Linked DNA regions of Homo sapiens. The protein of the gene in region 1 purifies or fractionates together with the protein of each later gene. This does not show direct contact. Each region holds a gene or a part of one and is shown in the gene's direction. Other genes may lie near its edges.

The links.
Region 2: the proteins of RHBDD1 (region 1) and ITGB2 purify together in Homo sapiens (affinity purification with mass spectrometry; one large-scale study listed by BioGRID and IntAct). This does not show direct contact.
Region 3: the proteins of RHBDD1 (region 1) and PLG purify together in Homo sapiens (affinity purification with mass spectrometry; one large-scale study listed by BioGRID and IntAct). This does not show direct contact.
Region 4: the proteins of RHBDD1 (region 1) and PEF1 purify together in Homo sapiens (affinity purification with mass spectrometry; one large-scale study listed by BioGRID and IntAct). This does not show direct contact.
Region 5: the proteins of RHBDD1 (region 1) and PLA2G4D purify together in Homo sapiens (affinity purification with mass spectrometry; one large-scale study listed by BioGRID and IntAct). This does not show direct contact.
Region 6: the proteins of RHBDD1 (region 1) and CP purify together in Homo sapiens (affinity purification with mass spectrometry; one large-scale study listed by BioGRID and IntAct). This does not show direct contact.
Region 7: the proteins of RHBDD1 (region 1) and A2ML1 purify together in Homo sapiens (affinity purification with mass spectrometry; one large-scale study listed by BioGRID and IntAct). This does not show direct contact.

The regions. Positions count from the first base shown.
Region 1 is NC_000002.12:226,838,642-226,842,899, forward strand, and holds part of RHBDD1 (rhomboid-related protein 4), read left to right. Parts: intron 1-767; 5' UTR 768-986; intron 987-4,258. UniProt on the Homo sapiens protein: Intramembrane-cleaving serine protease that cleaves single transmembrane or multi-pass membrane proteins in the hydrophobic plane of the membrane, luminal loops and juxtamembrane regions.
Region 2 is NC_000021.9:44,889,747-44,893,399, reverse strand, and holds part of ITGB2 (integrin beta-2 isoform 1 precursor), read left to right. Parts: intron 1-1,403; coding exon 1,404-1,591; intron 1,592-3,177; coding exon 3,178-3,422; intron 3,423-3,653.
Region 3 is NC_000006.12:160,700,586-160,705,466, forward strand, and holds the start of PLG (plasminogen isoform 1 precursor), read left to right. Parts: upstream 1-1,658; 5' UTR 1,659-1,719; coding exon 1,720-1,768; intron 1,769-4,881. UniProt on the Homo sapiens protein: Plasmin dissolves the fibrin of blood clots and acts as a proteolytic factor in a variety of other processes including embryonic development, tissue remodeling, tumor invasion, and inflammation. In ovulation, weakens the walls of the Graafian follicle.
Region 4 is NC_000001.11:31,634,694-31,638,951, reverse strand, and holds part of PEF1 (peflin), read left to right. Parts: intron 1-3,429; coding exon 3,430-3,730; intron 3,731-4,008; coding exon of another isoform or gene 4,009-4,106; exon of another isoform or gene 4,107-4,258. UniProt on the Homo sapiens protein: Calcium-binding protein that acts as an adapter that bridges unrelated proteins or stabilizes weak protein-protein complexes in response to calcium.
Region 5 is NC_000015.10:42,070,393-42,074,650, reverse strand, and holds part of PLA2G4D (cytosolic phospholipase A2 delta), read left to right. Parts: intron 1-2,258; coding exon 2,259-2,376; intron 2,377-2,739; coding exon 2,740-2,877; intron 2,878-3,099; coding exon 3,100-3,207; intron 3,208-3,333; coding exon 3,334-3,528; intron 3,529-3,767; coding exon 3,768-3,934; intron 3,935-4,258. UniProt on the Homo sapiens protein: Calcium-dependent phospholipase A2 that selectively hydrolyzes glycerophospholipids in the sn-2 position. Has a preference for linoleic acid at the sn-2 position.
Region 6 is NC_000003.12:149,207,829-149,212,086, reverse strand, and holds part of CP (ceruloplasmin precursor), read left to right. Parts: intron 1-1,707; coding exon 1,708-1,920; intron 1,921-2,702; coding exon 2,703-2,876; intron 2,877-4,258. UniProt on the Homo sapiens protein: Multifunctional blue, copper-binding (6-7 atoms per molecule) glycoprotein. It has ferroxidase activity oxidizing Fe(2+) to Fe(3+) without releasing radical oxygen species. It is involved in iron transport across the cell membrane.
Region 7 is NC_000012.12:8,853,176-8,857,433, forward strand, and holds part of A2ML1 (alpha-2-macroglobulin-like protein 1 isoform 1 precursor), read left to right. Parts: intron 1-952; coding exon 953-1,074; intron 1,075-1,604; coding exon 1,605-1,656; intron 1,657-2,333; coding exon 2,334-2,417; intron 2,418-3,988; coding exon 3,989-4,165; intron 4,166-4,258. UniProt on the Homo sapiens protein: Is able to inhibit all four classes of proteinases by a unique 'trapping' mechanism. This protein has a peptide stretch, called the 'bait region' which contains specific cleavage sites for different proteinases.

The DNA.
Region 1 (4,258 bases):
CAAACCTAACTTTATGCCATTCATTTTATAATATTTTTATAAATGAGGTAATTTTATTACCTAACTGCACTGCTTTTCTTTTTAACCATAAAATGCTGAAATGGAGTCAAAGCTTTCATATTATTGTGAATGAGAAAAAACAAACACTTGAAAAAAGTTGAAACTTTAACGTGAAAAAACACCATCTTCAGTTTTATCACTGTAACAGAGCAACTTGTAGAAATTGTTTTGGATGTTTACAGCAAGGTAAACATCCAAAGGTCAGGGGATGAGTAATAAAGTATCTTCTGTTAGTTAATGGGGACAGTCAGCTAGAGAAGGGGACACTGTTACAGGAAATGAGACCTCGTTGAAGGTATGCATCAAAGGATGAGAAAATGCTGTTAGCCCTGAAATTGCTAATATTTTTTTAAAACACGAATTCTTAATAGCAAAGTGAAAAGTTTTACATTACATTTTTTAATAAGGGATAACAAAATCTCTTACATGTATTTCTGTGTGTTTATATTGTATATGAATGTATGAGTGCAGAAAATACTTGACTCACACTAGGTCATAATTTTATTTGTCAGTATATTGGAATATGGGGGTGGGGACCAAGTATAAAAGGAAATTTTCTATATATGTAAAATTAGATACGTACATGTATATGTAAATGTTCTTTAAAAAAACTATTAAAAACGGAAGCGATTCTTTAAAAGGTAGATTTCCTTTTATGTTGCAGTCATAGCCACGTAAGCAATGGACCTCATATTTTTTTTCAACAGGGAGCCTCTTAAACAGAATCTTACCTGTAAAACTCAGGAGCCGAGAAGCTTTAAGAACAGTGAGGTTGAAGGGCACAGGCTCTTGGTCCTTGGCAGCGATATTAGGAGGCGTGCCTAGGGAACCTCGGATTCCGGGGAGCTGGACGTGAAACTCTGTGGTGGAATAGAAATCCTCAGGGCATGAGCTATACCTAAAACGTAATGGTATTAAGAATTCTGGTAAGTGGGATTCACAAACTTGTTCTGAAGACAATTTCCAAGGTTGTCAGCCATGTCACCATATGGATGGCTTCTCATGCAGAGGAGTGAGTGATTATTGAGAAAAAAAAAAACCCACCTGACCCGTATTTTACAAAGTAGGATTCTGTGCACTTTTTTGAGGAATTAGCTTTTTAAAAAATCCCTCCAAGTTGTGACAGCTGTATCGCTATTAAAAGCTATTTGGCATTTTAACTGACTGTTGTTTAGGATTACAAATGACTCGGGGAAAAAGAAACAAGGAGTCAAAGGAAGTGTATTACTTGTGTTTATAGCCCTATCATTTTTTTGTTGTATGGAAGCAACTACTCTATATTTATATAGTAAAGTGTTTTTTTAGAGTTAATTTTTAGTTAATAATGAGCCTTCATAAGAAAAATAATTTCAAATGCTAAGTATTTGTTAGATTGTTACTAATAGTGGTAGTTAGTGATATTACATTGTCTTTTTCACACATTGAAGAGGGTTTCCTGGTGACAGCTGGAGCTTGGGGGAGGGGGAGTTACTTTCAATCAACCAGCTGCTTTGTGGCAATATCATGATGGTGATATTTCAAAGCCCATAGATAACTTTGGCTGTTTCAGGAAAGAAAATCTATCAAATTTCTGGGAAGCAACAGATAATGGGCAAGAGACCTTTGGGATCTACGTGATGGCCAACTAACAATGTGTGCATTCCGGTTTGCATGTTGGGGTTATTTACCATCTAGTTTCTTGGACATTGTTACATGCACCTCATAATTACACAGTAATAGAATCTAGCTCTAAGGGCAGGAAAATCTCATTAAGGAGAGGAAAGGAGAGTGAAAAACCTTGGTGATGCACTGCACGCTTTAACATAATACCCTATTTCATTTATTCTTGATGGTGATTCTAGAATGTAAGTGGAATTTTTTGCCATCTATGGATAAAGAAACAGAAGCTCTACAGTACTGGTTGTATGATTTGCCCAAGGCCACATACTAGTACATGATGGCCTCCATATTTGACCCCAGATCTTCTGGCATTAGCTCTAGGAATGTTGTCATTACACCAACAGCTGTTTCTCCAGGTGTTAACTTGCTTATGCATTTTTAATGCAAAGTCACAATATCAGGATAGTAATGAATGAAATAAATATAAATGTTACTTACAATGACTTCAGTTTTATAAATAATATATAGGGGTGTGTGTGTGGACTTGTGTGTATGTGTGTTTTGGCAACTACATATAATTTGGGTTTTTTTTTTCTTAAGTAAAAAGTCTCTTGGGCAATACTGTGAAAAAAATTTCACTACGTTTTTTAAAAATATATTACTGATACCAGCAATATTGCAATTATGTGTGTTGCAATGAATCAGTTGTGATTCTAAATTTGAACAAACCTAGGAATGAATTTTGTGCATACTGCCCATGTAGTCGCCCTCATCCTAACATATTGAAGGAAATTTCTTGTTTTTTTCTTTCAAGGCGTATTCATTTTTCATTCATTTATTTATTTTTTTTGAGACAGAGTCTCACTCTGTTACCTAGATTGGAGTGCAGTGGTGTGATCTTGACTCACTGCAGCCGGGACCTCCTGGGCTCAGTTGATCCTCCCACCTCAGCCTCCCTAGTAGCTGGGACTACAGACATGTGCCACCACACCCAGCTAATTTTTTTTTCTTCAGCTTTTAAGTTCAAGGGTACGTGTGTAGGATGTGCAGGTTTGTTACATAGGTAAACATGTGCCATGGTGGTTTGCTGCACAGATCATCCTGTCACCTAGGTATTAAGCCCCACATCCATTAGCTATTGTTCCTCCCTGCCTACCACACCTCCCTGACAGGCCCCAGTGTGTGGTGGCTCCCTGCTCTGTGTCCATGTGTTCTCATCATTTAGCTCCCAGTTATAAGTGAGAACATGCAGTGTTTGGTTTTCTGTTCCCATGTCAGTTTGCTGAGGATAATGGCTTCTAGCTTTATCCATGTCCCTGCAAAGGACATGATTTCATTCCTTTGTGTGGCTGCATAATATTTCATATGTACCACATCTTCTTTATCCATCTATCATTGATGGGCATTTAGGTCAATTCCATGTTTTTGCTATTGTGAATAGTGCCACATTTAACATATGCATGCATGTATCTTTATAATAGAATGATTTCTATTCCTTTGGGTATATACCCAGTAATGGCAATGCTGGGTCTAATGGTATTTCTACCTCTAGGTCTTTGAGGAATCGCCAGTCTGTCTTACACAGTGGTTGAACTAACTTATACTTCCACCAACAGTGTAGTAGCATTCTGTTTTCCCTGCAACCTCGCCAGCATGTGTTGTTTTTTGACTTTTTAATAATAGCCATTCTGACTGGCATGAGATAGTATCTCATTGTGGTTTTGATTTGCATTTCTCTAATGATCAGTGATGTTGAGCTTTTTTTCATATGTTTCATGGCTGCATGTATGTTTTCTTTTGAGAAGTGTCTGTTCATGTCCTTTGCCCACTTTTTAATGGGGTTGTTTTTTTCTCCTAAATTTAAGTTCCTTGTAGACTGTGGATATTAAACCTTTGTCAGATGGATAGACTGTAAAAATTTTCTCCCATTCTGTAGGTTGTCTGTTCACTCTAATGATAGTCTCTTTTGCTGTGCAGAAGCTCTTTAGTTTAATCAGGTCCCATTTGTCAATTTTTGCTTTTGTTGCAATTGCTTTTGGTGTTTTCATCATGAAATCTTTGCCCATACCTATGTCCTGAATGGTATTACCTAGATTTTCTTCTAGGATTTTTATAGTTTTGGGTTTGACATTTAAGTCTTTAATTCATTGTGAGTTAATTTTTGTATGTAATATAAGGGGTCTAGTTTCAGTTTTCTGCATATGGCTACCCATTTCTCCCAGCACCATTTATTAAATAGGGAATCCTTTCTCTATTTCTTGTTTTGGCCAGGTTTGTCAAAGATCAAGTTGTTGTAGTTGTGTGGTCTCGTTTCTGAGTTCTCTATTTTGTTCCATCTGTCTATGTATCTGTTCTTGTACCAGTACCATGCTGTTTTCGTTACTGTAGCCTTTTAGTATAGTTTGAAGTCTGGTAGTGTGATGCCTCCAACTTTGTTCTTTTTGCTAAGAATTGTTTTGGCTACTTGGGCTCTTTTTGATTCCATAAAATAGTTTTATCTAAATCTGCGAACAATGTCAATGAAAGTTTAATGGGAATAGCATTAAATCTATAAATTACTTTGGGCAGTATGGCCGTTTTCATGATATTGATTCTCTCT
Region 2 (3,653 bases), on another chromosome or scaffold:
GCCTGGCCACAAGGGTCCCCATCCCAGCTTGCTGAGGGGCTCTGGGGACAGCCAGAAGGAGCCAGGGTCCCCATCCCAGCACACTGAGGGGTCCTGGGGACAGCCAGAAGGAGCCAGGGTCCCCATCCCAGCACTCTGACGGGGGCAGGGAGGGGCACACAGGCATCAGAGGCTGTCTGGGAGCAGGCAGCATCCACTGGAAGGACCCTGTTTCTTTCCTTCACATCCTCTCTGCCGAGGCCAGACGCTTTCCTTGTGAAGCTGATGTCAGGAACGTCAGTGAGAGGGTGCCGAGAGGGTGCTTCTCAGTGAGAGGGTGCTGGGAGGGTTCTTCACACACGCCTTGGCCCCCAAGAGTCCTACTCATCAACCTGGAGCCCAAATCCCTGGGTCAGGCCACTGCAGACTGAGGGATGGAGTGATGGCTGCGCCCCCTGGGGGCAGACGCCGGACACACAGAACAGGCGCAAACGGCAAACCTGGGTAGGGTTAGTTGTCATGATTTTCTGCGTGTTTCATTCTGTTTTTTTGACAGAAACATTAAGGCATGGGCCACACAGGTGGTTAGGAATGGACACTGAGTTCCTTCTCTAATCTTTCAGGTTTAAGTTTATTATCCAATCATTTGTTGTTTCTTTTTGTTTTTTGTTTTTTGTTTTTTTTTTTGCTAGCTGTGAAATAATATTCAGCAAGACACTTGCTTTCATTGCATTTTCTTAATATGACTTTGGAATTCCTTCAAACATGTTTCTTGGTAAATGTTGCCTGTGGATTTTTTTTTTTTTTTTTTTTTTTGAGATGGAGTTTCGCTCTGTCGCCCAGGCTGGAGTGCACTGGTGCGATCTTGGCTCACTACAATCCAAGTGATTCTCCTGACTCAGCCTCCTGAGTAGCTGGGACTACAGGCGTGTGCCACCACGCTCGGCTAATTTTTGTATTTTTAGTAGAGACAGAGTTTCGCCATGTTGGCCAGGCTGGTCTCAAACTCTTGCCCTCAGATGATCTACCCGCCTCGGCCTCCCACAGTGCTGGGATTACAGGCGTGAGCCGCGGCGCCCAGCTGTCCCATGGATTCTCACCAGAACGTTTCCCTCATGTTGGGTGGTCTGAGTGGGAGTGTGCTCAGCTTCTCCTGATTTGCTGTCTGCGTGTCACATGTCTCTGCTGATGTGTGGCCGGGGAGATCCTGGTGCCGGCCAGTGCGGGAGTGCGGGCAGAGCACCTCCTTGCCGGCTGACTTTGGCTCTCGGATCTGAGCATCAGCTCTTCCTGCTCCTGGTCACCCCTTCCTCCCCACGCTGAACCCCCCAGGACCCCTGCAGAGGCCAGGAGGTGAGGGTTGGGAGCTGGGCTGCCACCCTGGCCACCGAGGGTCCCCACCTGAGCCCAGCACTGCCCTGCAGATCACCTTCCAGGTGAAGGTCACGGCCACAGAGTGCATCCAGGAGCAGTCGTTTGTCATCCGGGCGCTGGGCTTCACGGACATAGTGACCGTGCAGGTTCTTCCCCAGTGTGAGTGCCGGTGCCGGGACCAGAGCAGAGACCGCAGCCTCTGCCATGGCAAGGGCTTCTTGGAGTGCGGCATCTGCAGGTGAGGCGGGCGCAGGTCCCTGTTGAACCATCCCCGAGCCCCACCCCACAGGGCAGGTGTCGGCAGGTGAGGTGGGTGCAGGTGGCTCCATCCCTTCCCCCACCCCACGGAGCAGGCATCCTGGGGGCCCCCTTCTGCAGGAGGTGGGGAGATTTGGGATTGGAACCCAGAACCCCTCGGCAAGCCCTCACCCGTGCTCCTGAGCCAGGGCACCAGCAATGCCAGCCTGTACTCTACACTCTCTGGCCATGGAGGACCCAAGGCAGGGGACTTGTGGGCAGGAGGACCCCCTCACCAGAGGATGGAGGCCCATCTCAGGGGCACAAGGAGTCCCCGCTGGGCGTGCCCATGGCCTTGAGTGGGTCACTTTCTCTGCCCGACCTTCCTTGACCCTAGGAGCTGGCTTCTCTCTGACCTTGGGGACCCAAGGCCATCAGGCTGGCAGCCCTGGGGCATGGGTGGCTAGAGAGCCTCCTGGGACAGGTGATGGCTTCTGGGAGCCTGGGCCCCATAGGCCACCTCTTGGGCGTGCACACCCCCTGCCAGGCGTGGGCACCCCACCTCAGGGAGAAGTGGGGGACAGGTGGACCCAGTGGGGAGGTTCACATGGCACTCAGCCAGGCGGCCTGCCCGGGGGCTGGATGGCTGTCCCCCTTTCCTTGCTTGCCTGGCCAGAGCTGCTAGGCTGACCTCCCAGGACTCTGCCCCCTTTGCTCTGGTCACCTCCTCCCCTGTCCTGACCGCAGTGCCAATCCACGTCCTGGTGGCAGTGCCCTTCCTCACCTTCAGGTCCCTGCTGCCCCCAGCCTCCTCCCATATCTCAGGACAATGATGGTCTCTGTGGTCTTGGTGGTCTCTGTTGCTGTCCTCGTGCCTCAGTGGCCACCCCGCCCACTGTCCTGGGTGTGCAGCCCTGGGGCGGCCTCTTCACGGGACTGTAGGGGTGACTCAGTCGGAACACTTGGCAGGTGTCGGGGGGTGCCCTGCCACAGGTACTCAGACACTCGGTCCTGCAGCTTCCTCCTCTGGGGAGCAGGAGAGCCCGTGGCAGTGCCGTCTCTGAGGATGCCTCAGGGTGTGTGTGGCTCCTGCCTGCCAGCGGCTTGATGCCAGCTTCCACATCTGTAAAAACCCCTTGTCCCTGCATTCTCCCACAACCTGGCCTGTCAGTGCACGAACGCAGGAGGGAGGGCGGGGCTGTGGCAGGAGGCAGTGCCGAGTCCCCACTGGCCACCATGTGGGGCACGCAGGAGCAGACACCAGCCACTCACAGAGCACCGGTATCGCAGCACAGGCCATGTGCATGGCTGCAACACAGCTCCACAGTGAGCCTGCCGAGCCACTGCATGCGCAGGCCAAGGCCAGGTGTCTGCTTTCCCCTCGGGACATCCTGGGGAGGGAACGCGGGGCCCCTGCACGTTTTGAGCACATTTAGTCCGTGGCAAGTGCTCAGTAGGCCTCGAGGAAAGCAAAATGTGCCATAGGGGTGTTCTCCACCAAGGGCAAGGGGCCTGGAGGACAGGGCGGCTGTCCCTTGTCCCACATCACTGGGGGGAGCCTGACCTTGGGGCCCCTCCTGTCCCCAGGTGTGACACTGGCTACATTGGGAAAAACTGTGAGTGCCAGACACAGGGCCGGAGCAGCCAGGAGCTGGAAGGAAGCTGCCGGAAGGACAACAACTCCATCATCTGCTCAGGGCTGGGGGACTGTGTCTGCGGGCAGTGCCTGTGCCACACCAGCGACGTCCCCGGCAAGCTGATATACGGGCAGTACTGCGAGTGTGACACCATCAACTGTGAGCGCTACAACGGCCAGGTCTGCGGCGGCCCGGGTGAGCCCGTGGGTCCCTGCTGGACAACGGCCGTCCTGCGGCACAGACTTGGTGTTGGGGGGTGCGTTCTGGACCATTCAACGAGTGGAACAGAAAGGGGGGATCCTGAGGACAGACAGTGCAAGTCTCGCCCAGCCACCGGGCGTCAGCAGGAACTTGGATGGCCCTGCACCCCGCCCTGCCTCAGTTTCTGTGTCCATGAGGACAAGGCGTCCTTGTGGGGAGGGCCCA
Region 3 (4,881 bases), on another chromosome or scaffold:
CTGCTCAACGTCCCTCTGTGCTTTCACGATGCTGATGGATTATGAAGGTAGGGAAGAATGTACAGCCAGGAGGCCATTAGGAGGGCAACTAATTTATAAAATCACATTTGTAGAATTTAATGCATCCAACAACTACCAGGGGAAAGGTGGGCAAAAGCTATACCAACACCACCCAAGTCAAAACCAAAACAACAGGAAAAGAAAATTATGTGGATGTAGAATTTCTGATAACATCATTCCCAAGGTGCCTTATCCAAGAGGAACTGCTACAATAATATTTTAAGTGGAAATAAATACATGCTGGAAGCATTATATATTAGTAGAGTATTTTTTTTTCCCAGAGTACTTTCTCAAGCACATCAACATGAGCCCCCTAAGAGACATTTCACATTAAAAATAAAATGTCTGCCCACTGCTGGTTTCTCAATCTGCCTCCACCTTCTGTCCCCTTTAATGAACTGGGCCATGAGGTGAGTCAGAGAGGATAAAGGGAGTGGTAAGAATTTGAGGAGAGAAGAGAGTGAGGCTAAAATAGGAAATCAGGAAAAGCGATTCGGTCCCCCTGTCCCTCACATGGGGCCACCCTCTTGTTGCCCAGTGTGGCTTCTTCTTGAGGGTTCTGCATGGTTCCTCAATCCCAGGGAATTCCGCAGGACATTCCACCCAAGACCATTGGGCTCCCACCTCTACTCTTTTGCCAGTTAATGAATAGGCAGGAATTTCACTGCCTGGAAAGAGGAACAATGCTTTCTGGTCCTTATTTCACATCTAAAATAGAGAGGTCAATTGATTTATTCCTAAATATCTTTGAACACTAAAATAGAAGTTTTACAGCATATATACTACCTGGTTGCTCTAGACTTAAGCCAGGGAAAAGTACAGATTCAACATTTAAAATTGAGATAGACGCTTTCCACTTAATGCTACCAGTCTTGCTTTATTTCATGAGAATGAGAATATAATAATATGGCATACGTTCATTTGGGGGAAAGATTGATGTCTTATAACATAATTTATAATTACAGAAAACATGTGAGTTCACTGGGAATAAATAAATTTTGAAGATAATAAGATACTTTCACTTATGTCGTAATTTCTATGTCATTTGGTGTAGGATGTAGAGATATTAACGTTTACACCTAACTTAAGTTTGTCATCTAAGACCTGAAGGGGTTTTGTCTATCAGCTGCACCCCTGGGTAGAGACACAACCTTGGGGAAGGCCTCAGCCCCATCCCTCGTACAGCAGGAATGAGAACAGCCCTGCCTGTTGGGAAGCTTGAGGGAGGCTATGGACGTGCAGCGCTTGGCAGAGGGTCTCGTCATGGAAGGTTCCAGCAAATGTGAGATACTTTTATGATTTCATTTTCTCCAAAAGAAAGGGAATAAGAGAAGAGGGGAGGAAATAAGACTAATTGCGAGAGATAAAGTACAAGGGTGAGGGAAGGAATAAGGAGACATGACGGCAGCGTGGAGCAGCCGAGGGGGGAGATTGCTTTCACCACTTCCCAGCATCTATTGCAGATTCCACCCTCAAACATGTTGTAAGGACTCTTTATTCAAGGTAATGTTTGAACCCTGCTGAGCCAGTGGCATGGGTCTCTGAGAGAATCATTAACTTAATTTGACTATCTGGTTTGTGGATGCGTTTACTCTCATGTAAGTCAACAACATCCTGGGATTGGGACCCACTTTCTGGGCACTGCTGGCCAGTCCCAAAATGGAACATAAGGAAGTGGTTCTTCTACTTCTTTTATTTCTGAAATCAGGTAAGACATAGTTTTTTTAAATTATAAGAATTATTTTTTCTCCCACAATGTAGTAAAAATACATATGCCATGGCTTTATGTGCAATTCATTTAATTTTTGATTCATGAAACTTCCAGTTGAAAATCTTGTATAAGATTGAGGAATTCTTCAAGAAATAAGTTTAAGTTTCCTGTGAAGATTGTCAGGGTGCTGGAATGAATGGGCAGAGAAAATAATGGGTGATTTTTCAAATCTAAATGAGTGCACCCACATAATGGCCAGTCTAATTGAAAAAGAGCCAATGTAGCTAATTATGCAAAGGACGGCTAAGCTCTTTGCCTGGTTCTCAGTTTGACTAATTTATATCATCTCTGTTACGGTGTCATGCTCCCCTCACTTGCAAGTTAAAACAGTGAAATATCTCTTTGAATATATTCCGTTCTCTCACCAGTTCATGGTGGCGGCAGGGTCGGGGACTCAGCATTTCTCCCTTTGTTATGGCCTGAGGAAGGCTTTCCATCAGTATACGTTTGCCTCTTATCCCCGGAAAAATCACACGCATCCATTTGCCAGATGCTGTGTGCAGATAGTGATCAACAAATACTCAGTTGCTTGGGTTAGGTCCCTACATTTTTACACATACATACATACCTGTGTGTGAATGTGAGTGTGAGTGTGTATCCTTTACAAATACTAGCTTATTTAGCTCGTGGTATAGGTAGGGTAGCATATTCATCCTCATTTTATAAACAAAGAAATCAGACTTAGGAATATCATGTTATTTGCTCAGTGACCAAATTCTCAGATCTGGGAAATAAAGAAAACTGGATTTAAGCCAGGTTTCCCAGAAGGAATCTAGGGCTCTTCTCACTTTTCAGCTTTGTTTAAGCCTTTGAAAGAATATTCTAAACATGTCCTAGTACTTCTTTTTCTTTAAAAAAAAAAAAGCTTTATTGAGATATAATTAACATATAGAATTCACCCATTTAGGCATACAATCCAATGGATTTCAAGATATTGAGAGTTGTGCAGCCACCATCAGAATAAATTTTAAAACTATTCATACCCCCAAAAACGCACTCCACTCTCCTTAGCTGTTACCCCCAATCTGCAGCTTCTGGCAACCACTAATCTACTTTCTGTATTTATATCTTTGCCATTTTGAACATTTCATACAAACGGAATCATACGATTTGCTAGTAGTTCTTCATGTAAATAATGTACGCTTGAAATTCAATCTATAAATTACCAGATAAAATTTTACAAGTTGCACTTTAGAGTCAAATACATTTGAATTTAGTGGAAGCCATTCAAGGAGCTATCAAAGAAAATACAGAGCAGGAGAAAATTAAAGAAATTTTTGTAAGAAATTGGTGTATGTTGGGGGGTATGAATATTATATTTCAATGCATGGAAACTAGGACATAGATCACTATGAACTTATTCAGTGGGCTACACCCAAAGGCTAGATCAAACTTCTCTGCCACAGGATTAACATATGTTTTAACCCACCTGGTGGGCACATTCTCTCATAAGCTCTTTTGGAAAGCCAGGTTTTCTGTGGATGTATCATCTTTCCAGTGTGCTGCAATGCCCGGGGAGAGGGAAAAGTTTCTTTTACAGCCATGCTTAGTGGGAAGTGGAGAAACATCTTCCATTTCACAAATTAAGTCTTTTACACATGCAAATATGCATACACATTCACACACCACAGTGAGGAAGAAATTCTCACACCATTAATAAAATACATTTGCATCAGTAGCAATATACATCTGCATTTTGCCTATAATATAAATGTATTTTTCCACTAAAAGATTTGTTTGATGTTTCCTTGCCAGCAAATAAGCCCTATCAAATCCTATTGCCATATGAGTCCTAGAGGTGAATAAGAGAAGAAAAAATGGGGGAAAATTATTTCAAACTGAAAAGAGAAAAGTTTGATTCTGTTTTGGGATATTTCCTAGGGACATGAGCTGGGGAGGGGATCTCAGCAGCGATGCGCTATGAAGCATAGTAACATAACACAGAGAACTTAATTGAAGGGGGAAATAAATGGAAGTTTTCTTTTTTTGAATATCAGTTGTAGCCTGCTCTGCTATACTTCAAAAAAACTCTTCAGAAAGTTTAACTGAACTCACTGTAGGACACACTTTGTGGATTTATTGTGTGTTTTGAAGTCACACTGTGAGCTATATAGAATTAACCAAAACACAACTCTTCTTGAAAATGAGAGTTCAAGTTGGCAGAAAGTGCGGGGTAAAGACATGGATATGGGCCTAAAGCATCTATTTCTTTGTGATCTTTTGATATATCTCTCAAGTGCTTTTTAGTGGATTAGCTTTAGAATGCATCAGCCAACTCCTGCTCAATAATCCATTTTTCCAGCCCGGAATGTCTTAAATTGAGGAAGGACAAAGTCCCAGAGGTGGGGAGCAGGGGGACTTTGGCCGAGGACTTTGCATGAATCGATGAGCATGCATCCACCTCCCTGTCCTGCCCCTTGTGCTCTGTGTACCCTCAGGAGGTCAGGACAGGCCTTTCTGAGAATGAAAATCTGTTCATTTGCTTTCCTACTGGATACTTGTCATCAGCATACAAACCAATGCGCTCTGCAGTGTGTCATCTTTCAGAACCTCCCCTGACCGCATGTTCCCTGGAGGGCTCGCTGTCTTCAGAGCCAGGCTTGTCTCCTGCTGCAGCCTCCACTGCTCTCCTAGTCACTCTGTAACCCACCCCCTCTGCCTGCGGCCCCCACCACGCCCCTCAAAGTGGTCAAGGTTGTCCTGTTGTCTAATTCCATGGAGCTTGCCTGTCTTCATTTTATTAGCCTCTTTTGGCCTCTCACCCTTGTGCAAATCACTAGCATTCTGTGCCAAGGACGGAGCTGGCATCTCCAGGCTTGGAATAGAGCTACCAAAGCTCAGCCAGATGTCTGGAAGAGCCTCAGGACAAGGGGACACCCTGTAGCCTTGTGGTGGGAGCACAGCTGAGGCCCCCTTGGCCACCCTCTGCCACGACCAGGCAGAAAGCAGCTTTCGGACAGATTCGTTGTCTCAGATTTGATCTCAAAGAAAAACCAAGACCAGTATTTGTCCCAGGTCCTGCTTTTTTACAATTTCCTCCGAAATCCAGA
Region 4 (4,258 bases), on another chromosome or scaffold:
ATTGTATCACAATTATCTGTGGGCCCCTTAAGGGCAGGACTTCATTTACTTGTGTCCTCAGATCTACTACAGAGCCTAGTACAATATTGTCACTCTGAAAATGCGTGCTGAATGAAGTCCTTTAACAGCTCCGTGGCTTAGTTTCTTCATCTGTAAAAGAGGGCAACTAACATCTTCCTTTTTTCTGTTAGGAGGCCATTGGCAAGATTCTGCCTGTAGTGTTTGTGTTTGTGAAAGTACTTTGTAAACTACAGAGGAGGTCTTCAAATGCAGGACAGAAAGGAAAGGGTTTAATTGCTGCCAGACTACAATAGCCAGAAGGGCAGGAGACCTGCCTGGCAGCACCTGCTTTGTTGGCCTGGGGATGTTTCCTAGGTGGTTTATAGGTGGTTTCCTAGGTGGGTTTTCCTAGGTGCCAGGTGCGGTTTATAGCTTTGCTCACAGGGCTTATAGTGGGGCAGCTACTTCTGGCTTCGTGTCTGGCCTGTTCTTTGGGTGTGCCCAGATTCTGCAGAGTTCCCACTCCCTTTCCATCCTATGCTGGAATCCTGAGCCCTATTGCTTAATGAAGGAGTGTTGTAGCAGGAGGCAGGGGGAGTCATTGGGTGCAAGGGAGTGGTCCAGCCTTGTCTCTTCCTCCAGCTCACAGCATTACTTGGGCAAGTCCCTCCCTCCCTCCCCCATCTGTAAAATGGGGGTTAGGTTAAGTGACTTGTCTTCTGGGTATTTCTCTTGTCACACCTCTCCAACCCCTTGGGAATCCTGTTCGTTCTCTAAGTCCTAGCTCAAATGCCACTCTCATGGAAACACTCCCTGATTTTACCCTCCTTCCTTTGCAGTCCTATGGCACATGACTTATGTCTCCATTTCAAACACCTGTTTTCCTTATGCTGTTTTGTTAGACGTTACACAGTGTCTACATGTTAAGTCTTGTTAACTGTGAGTGCCTTCAGATTGCTTCACTCTCCTTTATACCCCACCCCGCACAGTTCACCTGGCCCAGGACTTTGCTGATAACAGTAATTAATATAGCAATAGCAGCTATGACTTACTGATCATTTGCTTTATGCCAGGCACTGTTGTAAAAACTATTTTTCTTATGTGAGTGGTTTTCAGACTGTCTTTTCAGTCACTGTGAGGGGTTTTCAGAGCCCCCTCAGAATGTAGCAAGGGAGGGGGTTCCATATTGTAGGGGCTCTGGAGCTCCCACCTTACTTCAGCCAGAGCAACTTTCTTGTATTTGTTTTATTTATTTTATCAAAGGATTCTTTCTTTCTCTCTCTCTTTTTTTTTTTTTTTTTTTTTTTTGGAGACAGGGTCTCCCTCTGTTACTCAGGCTGGAGTGTTGTGGCACAATCACAGCTCACTGCAGCCTCCAACTTAGGCTCAAGTGATCCTTCCGCTTTAGCCTCCCGAGTAGCAGGGACTACATGTGTACCACCATGCCCGGCTGATTTTTAAAAATTTTTTGTAGAGGTGGGATCTTACTATGTTGCCCAGGTTGGTTATCAAAGGATTCTTTAGCTAAAAATTAAACTGACAGAATTTTGCTGCATTTATTTTTTATAATCTGCAGAACAGTCCAGTGAGGAAGGAATTGTTCTATTTGTGAGGAAGCAGGCTCAGAGAGATGAAGCCACGGGCCCACAGTCATGAACTTAGCTGATGGGAGCAGAGTTTTAAATTGAGATCTGTGTGAGCCATTCTTGTCTGTGAAGGAGTCTTGCTAGTAGCTATGACAGCTTCTAGGGTAGAAAAGCTCCCAAGGATTGCTGAGTGGGTGACAGGGCCTGCTTCCTGCCCTCCCCACAAAAAAACCTCATGAATTTGGCCTTAGCCTTAAGAGTAATTATTTCAAGCTATCAAACACAATAAAAAGAGAAAGCCCAGGCTCTCAGTGGCTTGGCCACTGGTGCACTTACAGGTTGATCTAGAACGTATCTAGATGGTGCCGTTCTCGGAGCTGGGCCTAGCTGCTGTCTGTGCCCTTGAGCTCAGCTTGTCTGCAGATGTGTTGGGGCTGTGCTCTGCTGGGTCCTGTGCTAGCCATTTAGGGAGATGGAGCGGAACACTCCGAGGGCTACTGGTGTGGGAAGATGGATGAGAGAGGGAATGCCCCCATGTATGCTCTAATGCACAAATGCCCTGGACATAGAGCCAAGAGACCCAGGTTCTGGTCCCAGCCCCTCCACACAGCCTGTGTGTGACTTTCCTGGACTTGAGTCTTGTCCTCTGTAGGAGGCTATTATTAATAGTGTTTATTGAGTGCTTAATTTGTGTCAGGCCCAATGTCAAAGGGCTTCACATAGCTGGCCTCATTTCATTCACAAACTAACCTGAGAGGTAGCTATTATTATTCCCATTTTATAGCAGAAGATGTTGAGGCTTAGAGAGGATAAGTCAGTCCAGTTAGTAAATGGCAGAACCTGAACTTGAACTCTTGAACTGGTTGTTTTTTGTTTGTTTGTTTGTTTTGAGATCGGATCTTACTCTGTCACCCAGGCTGGAGTACAGTTGTGTGATCATGGCTCACTGTAGCCTCGACCTCCCCAGGCTCAGGTGATCCTCCCACCTTAGCCTCCTGAGTCATTGGGACTATAGGTGTGCGCCACCACACCTGGCTAATTTTTGTATTTTTTAAATAGAGATGTAGTTTTTCTATGTTGCCCAGGTTTTTAGTAGAGATGTTGTTTTTCTGTGTTGCCCAGGCTGGTCTCTAACTCCTGGGCTCAAGCAGTCTGCCCGCCTCAGACTTCCAAAGTGCTGTGATTACACAGCTGTGAGCCACCACGCCTAGCTGTTGAACTGGCCTTTGAAAGCATTGTATCGTATTGCCTTAGGAATAGGGTCTCCCCTGCCTGCCTCACAGAGTTGTGAGTGAGGATAGGGAAATGTTTTTACATCAGGGTAAGGAAGACATGCTGTGGATGAATCCATGCTATAGCTATGTCATTTGTGACTGATGAGGGTCAGGGGTGTGTGTTAGAGACTGCGTTTGCCCCATGAGTTCTGCAGATAGAGATGGGAGTACCACAGGATGGGCATTTGGAATTCTGTTTGATTCATTTGCCTATTCATTCATACAGGAAATATTTACCAAGTATCCATTCTACACTGGGAGCTGGGGATAAAGTGACAAACCAGACAGGATCCTAGCCCTTGTGGAGCCCCTTGATGTGCAGGAAAGGAGAGTTAGGAAAGGAGGATTTCAACCCTGACTCTGCAGGTCATTGGCGGGGTGACTTTGGGTAACTCGTTGCTCCTCTGGAAGCCTCAGTTTGCCCATCTGAGCAGTGAGATCATAATTCCAACCCTACCTATAGGATCAGTTGAAAGGATGGTGGTGGAAGTGCTTTATGGTTGTAAAGTGCCATACTCTGCCTAGTTTCTGGCCTCATCATTCTGACTGATATCTTGCTCTTCCTGCAGGGCTGCCCAGGAGCTGCAGGACAAGCACCAGGAGCCCCTCCGGGTAGCTACTACCCTGGACCCCCCAATAGTGGAGGGCAGTATGGTAGTGGGCTACCCCCTGGTGGTGGTTATGGGGGTCCTGCCCCTGGAGGGCCTTATGGACCACCAGCTGGTGGAGGGCCCTATGGACACCCCAATCCTGGGATGTTCCCCTCTGGAACTCCAGGAGGACCATATGGCGGTGCAGCTCCCGGGGGCCCCTATGGTCAGCCACCTCCAAGTTCCTACGGTGCCCAGCAGCCTGGGCTTTATGGACAGGGTAAGTAGTAATCTTGGACTCCGGGTACCTCTGACGTGGTTCTGAGTTATCCATGGCCAGCCTTTGTCCTTCCTGTGGGTGTGCAGGCAGCCTGGTCTCTGGCACCTTAGCATCTTGCTTCCAGCTTCAGTGTGTATCCTCAAAATGATAAGTTTGTCAGCTAGTTTTGTTGCAAGCATTTATTTGTATTGCTTGCTCATGCTTACTTTCTTTTGCTTACATGTCAGCAGCTGTTAGCTGGCTGTTGAGTTTCTGTTCCCTGTGTCTTTTTCATTCAGGGATACATGCTGAAGGAGCAGCTCCTGTTTGGGATATGTTATCTTTGTGGCAGAGAGAAGGAGCAGGAGAGCTAGCAAGAATGCACAATGCCTCTTAAAGCTTCTCTGAAGTACTGTATGTCTTGCCCACTTGCATTCTTTTGGCCAGAGCACCCCCTGATCAAGACTGACATCAGTAGGATGGGAAAGGATGCCCCTCTGCAAGCCACCAGGCAGTGGGAGAGGATGTACAATGCTCTTATAGGGAAGG
Region 5 (4,258 bases), on another chromosome or scaffold:
ATTAATAAATATCATACCCTGAAACTTTGCTCAGAATGACTTTATTAGTCTACATACATCTTTAATATTGATTAGGTTTTTATAAAAACCCGCTCGTAAAATACACTAGCTATAATCAGTGCTTCTCAAACTCTCATCTCTTCGAAACTTTTTTCTTCAGTCTTTTGCTGGCAAGTACTGAACTGCTTAGAAGCTGCTTATCATTCCTCAAGGAGAAACTCAGAGTGGTTCTCTTATCCTTTCCTGAGTTAAGAGCTGACACACTTTCCTTCCCTTTAGTCTGCATTGCCGGTACTGCACCAAGCTCCAGTGTTTCCCATGGGACCCTCGAATCATCAGAATGGTGTTCTGCAGGGTTGGGGTTACTTGCTTGGAAACTGGGGGGTTAGAGACTGAGAGTCCTGCCGCAGCTTACTGGTGAGCCATTAGATATACCGGGTGGGTTTCAGTAGATGGAGGGGTGTGCTGACCTTTTTCCAGAACTTTCCCTAGGGCATAAATTGTGCAACTATAGTAAAAGGACACATTTTCCCTAGTCATATGTATCAAAAGAGCAACAGAGTTTCTAAATAAAAAGATTTTGAGAAGGGGTCACGTACACACATTTGTACCTAAGGACTGACTCGTACGTACACCACCACCATCAGTGGCAGGGGATCGAGCCCTATTTAGAGATTTCCTGCAAATTCCCTGTAATTCATACTGGGGACCATTGGAAAATGGGGTGGAAGGATGACTGTGGTTGACACATGAGTGTTCTCGTCAGGGACAGAAGAGCTGCCAGCAAGGAGGACACACACACTGGGTGTGTTGAGTTTCGCCATGGATGTGGGAGAGGGACCCTCCTTGGGTAGGCTGGGTAGGAATCCTCACACCTGGCTGGGCATCAGGATCATCTGAGGGTTTTTAAAAGGCAAACTCCAAAGTGACTTCTGACAGGCTGATTCTCAGGGGAGACCCAGAAGTCCGCATGCTTCACATGCTCTCACGTGTACACATTCACTGAGTCACTCTGATGATAAGGGCTGCTGCGGCAGGTTGGGAGCCTCTAGAACTAGACACTCTTCCATCTTGGAGAGCCCAAAGGAAGGATGACGTATTCATGGTACACATACTGCCCAGTAGAAACAGCCCAGGGCTGACAGCATCAACCTCAGCTCTGGCGGCAGAATCCTTCCCAAGGTGGTGCTCCAGGCAGGCACCACCATTCGCCTTGCTGGTGCTTGGGAAGAGCTCTATTTGCAATTCTAGCTCAGCATAGAATGAGGCCTTTCTGTTCCCTTACAATTCAGGGAGGCTCTGTGGAGGCTCCCCCAAAAGGCAAGCTATAGTCGTTGCCATCAAAGAGCTTGGGCCAGGCATGGTGCCTCACGCCTGTAATCCCAGCACTTTGGGACGCCAAGGCAGGTGGATTGCTTGAGCTCAGGAATTTGAGACCAGCCTGGGCAACATGATGTAACTCCATCTCTACAAAACATGCAAAAATTAGCCAAGTGTAACTTGTAGTCCCAGCTACTCTACTCGGGAGGCTGAGGTGGGAGGATCACTTGGGCCTGGGAGGTGGAGGTTGCAGTGATCCAAGATTGCACCACTGCACTCCAGCCTGGGTGACAGAGTGAGACCCTGTCTCAAAATAAAATAAAACAAAGGCAGAGCTTGGAGCTCTATTGAGGAGGAAATTAAGAACAGAAGGCAAGAATAATCAATGGGGTACAACCTCATGTTATGCAAAGCAAGAAAGAAGAGGGACGATGAGGGGGAGGCAAGGATGTCAGGAAAGCATTCGGGAGGAGCTGAAACTTGAACTGCATTAAGGTGAACCTAGAAGAGGGGGCAGTCCATCCCCTGGCATAGGTTGCAGTATATGCTAAAAGGGCATTGCTGCATCCTTTCTACAAAGCAATACGTGGATGTGTGCATGTGTCCTTGTGTCTGTGTGTCAGTATCCACACCCACTTCACCCTTAAATCCACGAAGATGGGCCTGGAAGCACCGCTGGCATTGTGGTCCCTATGAATGGCCCTCGCTGGAGATTCATAGTACACAGCCTGCATGCCCTGTCCAGCGACCCTGCATCTAGGGCTGTTCAGAACACAGGGGCAGGAGTGGGAACTGACCCACATATGGTCCCCAGACCCCACGGGAGGAGCTGCCTCCTCACCCCCAGCCAGGTCCCCCATCCTGCCCCTGTCCTGGCGGAGCCACTGCCTCCAGGGTACTCCCAGCCTCACTTAGGCCCTGATGCCCTCTGGCCCCAGGTGATGGATCAGAAGCTGTCAGGACAGAGAGCCGCCCTGGAACGGGGTCAGAACCCTCTGCCCCTCTACTTGAGCCTCAATGTCAAAGAGAACAATCTGGAGACACTGGACTTCAAGGGTACAGTTCTACCTACTCCCCTCCCACATACTCCACCCCCCAAACCCTCTGCACCCCGACAGCCCCCAGAGAATTCATGCTGGAAGCTCCGCACAGATTGCCCAATGTTCCGGAAGGGCAGTGGTGCTGAGGGGCTCAGGGCATCTCTCTGTGCTTGAGAGTGGGTAGTGCTTGAGGGTGTGGACCAAGGGCTGGGAGGGGTGTGGTCAGTCCAGGACTGCCCATTCCTCACATCTGCTGCATTGGTGCCAGGCACAGCAGGGCTCAGGCCTGCTGGGGGCAGGGGCAGTGTCTTTCGCCAGAGCTGGGGACTCCCGCAATCCACTCCCCTCACACTCCTGCCTCTCCTTCCCACCCCATTAGAGTGGGTTGAGTTCTCCCCCTATGAGGTCGGTTTCCTGAAGTACGGGGCCTTCGTCCCTCCTGAGCTCTTCGGCTCCGAGTTCTTCATGGGACGGCTGATGAGGAGGATCCCGGAGCCCCGGATCTGCTTTCTGGAAGGTGAGGGTGGTGGCTCTGAAGGCCCTGGGCAGCCCTGGGCCAGGTGTCTGAATGGACATGGGTCCTGTAGCTCAGGTGGGGCAGAACCTCAGGACAAGGGGGAGGGGTGGCGGGGGGGATGCATTGTAGGGGTAGCCCTCGCCCCACTCCCATTTTCCATCAGTACCTGAGGGTGGGGCCGCTGGCTGGGGCCTGAGGCTGATCTCTTTTGGTGTTCCTCAGCCATCTGGAGCAACATTTTCTCCCTGAACCTGCTGGATGCCTGGTATGACCTCACCAGTTCTGGGGAGTCCTGGAAACAGCACATCAAGGACAAGACCAGGAGCTTAGGTGGGAAGGGCAGGGGCACTGAGGGGCCTGGGATGACGCTGTTCCTTTAGAATGCTTGCGGTGTGCGGTGTCTGAGGGGAAGAAGTAAGGGGAAGAAGGGACCAATTTCTGTTTCTCTGGCTTCAGAGAAGGAGCCCCTGACCACCTCGGGGACCTCCTCGCGGCTGGAGGCCTCGTGGCTGCAGCCAGGCACGGCGCTGGCCCAGGCATTTAAAGGCTTCCTGACAGGCAGGCCCCTCCACCAGCGCAGCCCCAACTTCCTCCAGGGCCTCCAGCTGCACCAGGACTACTGTAGCCACAAAGACTTCTCCACCTGGGCAGGTCAGGGCCGTGGCCAGGGGTCCCTAGGTCACAAGGTTGGGCCTCTGGGTGGTGTGGCAGGGACTGGCTGAGGCCTAGGAGGTCAGCATCCACTTCTGGGGTGTGGCCTGGAGACGATCCCCTTGGAAGGTCCTGGGGAAGGGCTGGGTGGCATTTAAGGAGTGACCCAGAGGAGAGAAGGGGACATGGATGACCTGTGGCAGGGTGGTGGCCTCTGACCATCCTGCGATTCCCACCAGACTACCAGCTTGACTCCATGCCCAGCCAGCTGACCCCCAAGGAGCCCCGGCTCTGCCTGGTGGACGCCGCCTACTTCATCAACACCAGCTCTCCCTCCATGTTCCGGCCAGGCCGCAGGCTGGACCTCATCCTCTCCTTCGACTACTCCCTATCTGCGCCCTTCGAGGTACCCTGGTCACCCCAGGGGAACCCCTCTGCCCAGCCAGGCCAAGCTCCAGAGGCGAGCAGCAGGGCCACTGAGCCCCTGCCCCACACCGCCGGGGTCCCGAAGGGAAGGAGAGGTGTCAGGCCTTGATCTGCTGGCTCCTGCCAGGGTCCTTAGGTGGGAAGGCTGGGGTGGTGCAGGGGCCTTGGGCTCCCAGGACAGGTGAACAGGGAGGGACCTCCCCACACCTACTCCAAAGAACAGCTGGACGGAGCTGAGAGGAGACCCTAGCATCTCCATGTCCATCCCCCAGACCTCCCCTGAGACGCTGTGCCAATGTGGGTC
Region 6 (4,258 bases), on another chromosome or scaffold:
CTCCTGACCTCCTGATCTGCCCGCCTCAGCCTCCCAAAGTGCTGGGATTACAGGCGTGAGTCACTGCACCCGGCCAACTATTTTATTAATAGGTACTTTGTTTCCATATAATAATGGCATGTTTCTCTTGGTTGTGCTCTTTCGTGGAAAGTGTGAATGTGAGAGAATTTCTAGGTGGACTCAGTGAGAGTCAGAGAGAGCTGGAGCTTCTTTCCCAGAGCCCAGTCCTTTCTGGCCAAATAGAATAAGAGAAATGGACAAAGTGCATCAGAGCCTAGAAGAGGCAAAATCCAGAGGGAAGAGAAAGAAGGACTCAAGATGTGGATTGCCTTATCTTTGAAGTTCCTACATGTAAACATACTGTGCTGTTGTTACCTCCCATCCTAACTTTATATAAACTCTGCCCCAGCTAAGGTGGCATAAGTAGTCTCATGTCAGTCAAATGGTACATATGCCTGGATGACTGTAGTCACATATGAGACACAATTAACTGAAAAAGTCATTTGAATGTAGGACTTGGAAGCCTTGAAAATAGTACCTGAAAAACAAAGATAAGGTTTGGTGCCTGTGATCTCATTCTTAGTCCTTAACAATGATGGTAAAAAAGGTGGTATTTTGTAGTGATGAAAAGCAAGGGCTTTGAAATTAATAGACAAAGGTCTGAGCCCCAGCCTTGCCTTTCACTGTTTGAGTGACCTTGGACAAATTACTTAAGTTCTTTCAGCTTCAGTTTCCTCATCTATAAAATAGAGATAATAAGAATACATAGTAATACCTCAATAACTATCAGCTGCTATCATAAGCAAAAATGCTGAAGTCATGCTACAGTTCATTGAAATTATAATGATCGAATAGGGAAATTAATTTAAAATTAGATTTGATTCATTATTAGTTGTCTTATTAAAAGAGATATTGGTTTAGAAAGTGAATGTGTTGACTTTTTTTGTTTTTGTTGTTGTTTAGGGATAAATTACATTCATAGCATAAAAGGCTGACTGCCATCCTATTTCTTTTTAATGATTTCATGGCTTACTAGGGAATTACCATTCATTTTAAAGGTATGGTAATGGAACTGTGGTTTTGTTAGAAGAAAAAAAGGGTTCCTATCTTTTAGAGATACATACTCAAGTATTTATGAATGGAATATGATGTCTGAGACGTGCTTTAAAATAATTTGATGATACTGGGGATAAGAGTGTGTGGGGGTACAGATGAAACAAGGTTGGCCTTGAGTCGATCATTGTTAAAGCTGGTTTGATGGGTACACAGAGGTTCAGCATTTTCTTCTCTCAACCTTTGTGTGTGTTTGGAAATTTCCAAAATTGAGAGTAGAAATGTTTTTAATTTTATGGTTACTTCGTGGGCAAAAATCTGAGATCATATAAGAAGTTTTGAATTTAGAAGAGGGTAGCCTTTTTGCTCAGACTCCCATACCATGACCCGAGTTCTTTACATTGCAAACAAAAAGTCATTATGCTCTCTGAAAACCCAATCAAATATAAAAAAATAATAAAAATGTCTGTGAAGCTTCTACACACCCTAGCCATTAGCCTTTCATTTTCCTGTGTCCAAATAGGATAACACATCCCCAAGGATCACATAGTAGATGTTTAATAAATGTTTGCTGAATGAATTAATGGACTATCTATTCTCTCATTTAAGTTCAAACACATTCACTTTGCACCTTCATTGCATGTTGCTTCCTAGGGGCCATCTACCCTGATAACACCACAGATTTTCAAAGAGCAGATGACAAAGTATATCCAGGAGAGCAGTATACATACATGTTGCTTGCCACTGAAGAACAAAGTCCTGGGGAAGGAGATGGCAATTGTGTGACTAGGATTTACCATTCCCACATTGATGCTCCAAAAGATATTGCCTCAGGACTCATCGGACCTTTAATAATCTGTAAAAAAGGTACATCTTCTCCTTATTGCACATGCTATATGACCAAAAGACAGGGGCAGGGCAGTTTGTCTTTTAAAAAGAAATCAAGTCTTCTGTGCTGAGATTGAGCAGGTAAGGTAGAGAGGTGGTAAGTAGAAAAAAAGGAAGGGAAGAGCCAGGCAGGACTAGGAGAAGAAGGGATAAATAGAACAAGCATTCCTACGGGGAAAATGCCAATGAAGGTAATGTGAAAGAAATATATTCTCTCAGGGTTCAGTTTGCTGTATCTAACTTCCAACAGTGGTGCTGAAGAGACATATGACTTTACCAAATGTGACTACCAAAAGGGCACTCCACGGTGATAGATCTGTAGTTACTCATACTATATTGGTAAACATAATATCATAGTATTTATTTCTAACATCATGAAAAAGACAACGGAGCTCAAGAGCCTGAAATACAATTCTAACTTGAACAATCGTTACCTGTAAAGACTTGTCTCTGTTTGTGGCTATATGCACCAGAAAATAGACGCACAACTTTGAATTCCAATCTTCCCATTTGCCAAAAAGCATTTAATAGTTATGTGGTCAGTGGACATCCAGACACAGGAGTGTCTTCCAAGCACCAGATACTGATCATAAAAATTCCCTGAGTGTTTCTGTCTGTAAAACAGGAGTGACTGGTCCAGACTTGTGATTTATTCGAAAAAATAAATACTAACATTTTTAAAAACTATAAATCACCTGAAAACATAAATCAAAATACATGCTAAAAGTTTAGTCTTGCTAAAATAGTAACTTTAACTCCAGATTCTCTAGATAAAGAAAAAGAAAAACATATTGACCGAGAATTTGTGGTGATGTTTTCTGTGGTGGATGAAAATTTCAGCTGGTACCTAGAAGACAACATTAAAACCTACTGCTCAGAACCAGAGAAAGTTGACAAAGACAACGAAGACTTCCAGGAGAGTAACAGAATGTATTGTAAGATTACAGCAGACATGTTAACTTTACTTTTTTTTCCCTTGATCCATTAATTCTGCTAAGCTTATTCCCTCACATAAATAAGTACTGTGTGTCTAGTCTGTGGTCCTTATAACAAAGCATATTGGATGTGCAATTTGATATTCAGCTAAGTAAGTCAGAATAAAAACTCTAAGCCAGGTAAAGCCAGATACACCAAACTTGTTCCCCAACTGGTAAGGATAAAGCATCAATTATGGTTTAATGCATATGTATGTGACATTAATATATTTATTTATCCACTAGACTCATTCTAAAAATTATTTGAGGCAGCTCCAAATTATTAAACTAAATGCTTAAAACCATATTATATTTTAAAGCATCTAACTATATTTAAGAAAATAGTTCAAACCACGAGTTCTGAAAGGTATTCGTTTTACATACTATGTTGCCCTCACTGGGCCCCTTAGTCTGCATCATTCGTTTCTACATTTCAGTTCACTTTACTTTTCTAGAAATGCTTTTTTTACAGTTTAGACTTTTTCTTAATTCTCAGACACAAAATAATGAGCTTAGTAAGATTATCTATTTCTCATAATTTGCATGAGAAACAGAGTCCCTTAACAACAACTAGACCAATAAGTAGATATTTTCGTTTATTTGTTTGTGTTTAACTTCTTCAAAATAACCTGTACTCAGAAACCGAGAGCACAAAAATAACGATACTACCAAAGTAGAAAAATAAACTAGTTAACAAAGTACAGATTTTGTTTCCAACTTTTACTTATATCTGGGTGGAAGGTCCTCTTTCCATACTTTAATCCTGTCTCTGTTGTGTACTAACAAAAATAGTTGTTATAAAAAGATACTCAAAATTCTAGCCTGAGCAGGTTTGATTTGGTACCAGTGTTACATGTGGTGCACTCAGGATTCTTCCCAGAACTAATTTCCACTTGGGAAATTTTTAGGGCCACCCAGTTTGAACAGTGACCATAAGTTTCTTCTGAGGGTTTCAGGCCACCTTGCCTATGAACTTTTAGGTCTTTGTGGCTCTGTCCCTGCTGCCCTTCTACATTTTTTCCCTCCTTCATATCTCTTCCAATCTTAAAAATTTTGTCTTGCAATCTTTAAAAAAAAGCTATTCTTATGTACTTTTTACAAAATAAATTTATGGTAGAAAATTGGAAATTTTCTGACAAGCAAAAACATCCATACTACCAACATGATGAATAACTGATTGAATACTAATATTCAATCTTTTTTCTATTAATTCTATGTGTGTTTTGTTTATATGTATGTATATATGCACACCTCTGTATTTACACACACACACAATGTGTACAGTTTATAACAAAGACAGCAAATAGGTTTTATCTTCAGTATTGTGTTCATCTGTTAATATG
Region 7 (4,258 bases), on another chromosome or scaffold:
GAGAAGCGGTCTTGCTCTGTTGCCCAGGCTGTTCTCAAACTCCTGGGTTCAAGTGATTCTCCCGCCTCACCCTTCCAAAGTACTGGGATTACAAGAATGAGTCACTGCACCTTTAACTTGTTTAATCCTCACCCCCAACCCTATGGGATGTCAGTCACTCATAGATTAAATCCTTGCAACTCAAAGTTTGATTTTCATATGTATGAGTTATCTCATGTTGCTTGACAAATTATTGTAAAACTTAAGTGTCATAAAAGGACAAACATTATCAAACAGATTCTATGGGTCATTAATCTGGGTGCAGCTTAGCTGGGTACCTCTGGCTCAAGGTATCTCATGAGGTTGCAATCAAGCTGTCAGTCAGGACTCTGGTTTCATCTGAAGACTCGACTAGGAGAGGATTGATTTTTCAAGCTCATCCCAAAGTCTCTGATCCTTACAGGCTGCTAGACTGAAGGACACAGTTCTTGACCTCAGCTTTTGGCTAGGGGCCTCACTCAGTATCTCATCACATGAATCTCTCTGCTGGGCTGCCTCATCACACAACAGCTGTCTTCCCCAGAGCAAGCAGTTTGAGAAAAGGGGTGCACCCAAGATGGAAGCTGCAGTCTTTTTTGTAACCTAATCCCAGAAGAGTCATTACTTTCACCCTGTTCTCTTTAACAGAAGCGAGTCACTCAATCCAGCTCACACTCAATGGATGTAAATATCAGGATGCAGGGATCTCTGAGGGCCCTTAGAGGTTACCTACCACACTGGACTAGCCTCTCTGGCATCACCTGGGAGCTTGTTAGAAATGCAGAATATGGGCCCCACCCCAGGTCTATGGCAGCAGAGTTTGCACTGTTGCAAGATCCCCATTAAAGTTTCAGAAATGCTGATCCAAATGGGAATGGACCTCACTGGTACCTCTGGCAATAGGGCTAATGGCTTCCCTTCTTCTTTCTCTCAGGTCACATTAACTTTACTATTAGTACAAAGATTCTGGACAGCAATGAACCATGTGGGGGCCAGAAGGGGTTTGTTCCCCAAAAGGGCCGAAGTGACACGCTCATCAAGCCAGTTCTCGTCAAAGTGAGTTTTCTTCAGAGGTAGAGACAGCAACCAACCGAGGGATGCTCAGCATCTCGTCTTGCTGTGAGTTAGTCTCTCACAGCAACCATACTCCAGTCCAACCAGGCAGCTTCAACTTTCTCCTTCCCTGGCCCCTTGAACATTTGCCTAATCCACACCCACGGCCTATGAAAGCACCTAAAACCCGGCACCTCATAGGCACTCAACAAATGTTAGTTTACCTAATTAAAATGTCTGTCTTCATCAATAGCTGCCTTTTTCGTCCCATCATGAAGCCCATTGTCAATCTTGCCTCTTAGAAGTTGCCTAAATGTGTCTTTGGCTCTAGCACTTGCCCAGAAAGAACTTTACAGAAAGGGCCCATCCTTGGGTTGACGCAGAGTTCTTCTGAGCTTCAGTGAGAAGCTCTTGTCTGCAGTTCTGAGGGAAGCCCTGGGGGCACAGCGAGGGGCCTCCCTTCCCTTTCCTTTAGTGCCATCCCTCCTGATGTTCATCTTTGTTGTTTTTATCTGTGTCTCTCTTCATCGCAGCCTGAGGGAGTCCTGGTGGAGAAGACACACAGCTCATTGCTGTGCCCAAAAGGTGGGTGGACTCAGAGCAGGATTGGTGGTGAGAATTCCCTTAGAGGGCAGGAGATTTTCTTTTCATTTTTTTTTTTTTTTTGAGACGGAGTCTCGCTCCGTCGTCCAGGCTGGATTGCAGTGGCACGATTTCAGCTCATTGCAACCTCTGCCTCCCGGGTTCAAGTGATTCTACTGCCTTAGTCTCCTGAGTAGCTGGGACTACAGGTACATGCCACCATGCCTGGCTAATTTTTGTATTTTTAGTAGAGATGGGGTTTCACCATATTGGCCAGGCTGGTCTCGAACTCCTGACCTTGTGATCCTCCTGCCTTGGCCTCCCAAAGTGCTGGGATTACAGGCGTGAGCCACTGCACCCGGCAGCAGGAGATTTTCATAGGCAAAAGGAGGAATGCATAGTACCAGAAGGAATAGGAGAGTCTGAAGTGCCATTCCTCATGGGGCTGATTAACTGGGAGGCAGGAGGAAGAAGAGAAAGTGTGCAGCACGATGATGACTCTCTGTGGAATTTATTTTCAGCAAGATCACTATGAATAGTACCCAGTGCTTTCTGCATCCCAGAGAAAGCACCGAGTACAGAAATCCCTGGATTATAGAAAGTTCTTCTAAAATTTTGTCTTGAGAACCCCTGCCATTCCCCATCTTCTATTGTGTCACCTTTTTTTCTGCATCTCACAGGAAAGGTGGCATCTGAATCTGTCTCCCTGGAGCTCCCAGTGGACATTGTTCCTGACTCGACCAAGGCTTATGTTACGGTTCTGGGTAAGCAGTTAGAGATTCTTGACTCAGAAAGGAAAAGGCGAATGGAGGCTGCAAAGGTGTGGAGTGGGGCGGGACATACGGACCTATCCGGAGAGTGTAACTAATAACAAGTGATGAAGGAAAAAGAGCGTATTTTATATAGGAGGGAAATACAGTGTAGGCAACAGTACAGATGGGATTAGACTTGTACTCTAGTTAAAAATGGAAGAGAGTCAGGGTAGGAAGAAGGTAAGGTCGCTGATGCTTGATTTTAGGTTTAGACAGTCTATAAATTGGGTGAAGGGAAAACAGAATATTTGCAGCAACCATTTTCAAAACTGAGGAATTTGGGTATAGTTTAGGGAAGATACAACCATATTTACAATAGGCAGCACACTTACTGTTTGGGGCAAGGGAGGAAGTGGGTTGAAAAGCATGAACGTAGAAATCATATCTAACCTGTCATTTAATAGCCATGTGACCCTGAACAAGTTAGTGAACAGTTCTGGGCCTTCTTTCCTCTTCTGTAAAACAGTGATAATAACCTACCTCTCAGACTGGTGTAAAGATTAAATGCAATATAAAGTCCCCAGCACAATATCTAGCATGTAGTAGGAGCCCTATGAATGTTAGGCTCTTTCTTTACTCCCTCACCCTCTATTGAGATCCTTTGCAGTCACAGTGTCTCTGTTTTGTCTATTTTATTCGTAAGTCTGACATAGCACTTATCTTATTGTATTAGAGTTCACTGTCTATATCTGTCTTCCACACTGTGTTGGGGGCTCCTGAAGAGGAAGGGCCACATCTTTTTCTTTTGTGTTCCTAGTACAGTTCCTGCAACATAGTTGACATTCAGGACACATTTATAGATTGAATTGAGCTTGTTGGCTACAATGCAGATGTTAATGAGTCACTTATGTCAGGTTCACTGGCTTGGGAAGTATATGAAGGGGTCAGTGACAACTTGGAAAAGAGTGTCAGAACTGTGTTTTAGAGAAACTTGGTGATTTGGAGGGTGAGGAACGTACATGCAGTGGTAGAGGAGCTTAAGAGATTGATCCTAAGTGTTATAAGTTTTGTCACATCACTCATCAGCTCAGTGACATGTCTTCTTAAAAGCCCTGAACTCTCTTAGATAGCTTATGTGCCTCTCCGTGTCCCCTAGCACCTCGTACATATCCAGTATGACATTGTAGTACTGTATTAAAATTGTTTATAATGAATAAAAATTGTAATGTGTTGTAATGGTTTGCTCCTCTGTGAGTTTTTTTGAGGGTAGAGACCGAGTTTGATTTACTGTGGTCTTCCCAGGACACACAGTAGGTACTTTTTTTTTTTTTTTTTTTGTATTTTTAGTAGAGACAGGGTTTGTCCATGTTGGTCAGGCTGGTCTCGAACTCCTGACCTCAGGTGATCCACCCTCCTCGGCCTCCCATACTGCTGGAATTACAGGCGTGAGCCACCACGCCCGGCCCATAGTAGGTACTTATTAAATGATAGCTAATACGTGTTTGTTCAGTGAATGATGATAACTCTTAGAGGGTCCCTTCTTCTCTGTACCCCTACCTTCTCTCTCTCCTTTTGGATCCCAGGAGACATTATGGGCACAGCCCTGCAGAACCTGGATGGTCTGGTGCAGATGCCCAGTGGCTGTGGCGAGCAGAACATGGTCTTGTTTGCTCCCATCATCTATGTCTTGCAGTACCTGGAGAAGGCAGGGCTGCTGACGGAGGAGATCAGGTCTCGGGCAGTGGGTTTCCTGGAAATAGGTAAGTTGGTTCAGTCTTTCTTTCTTGAACACTCTCCTCCACTAGGCCCTATGACAGATTGATGATACAGGGAATTCCAGCCCCTCAAGTGTC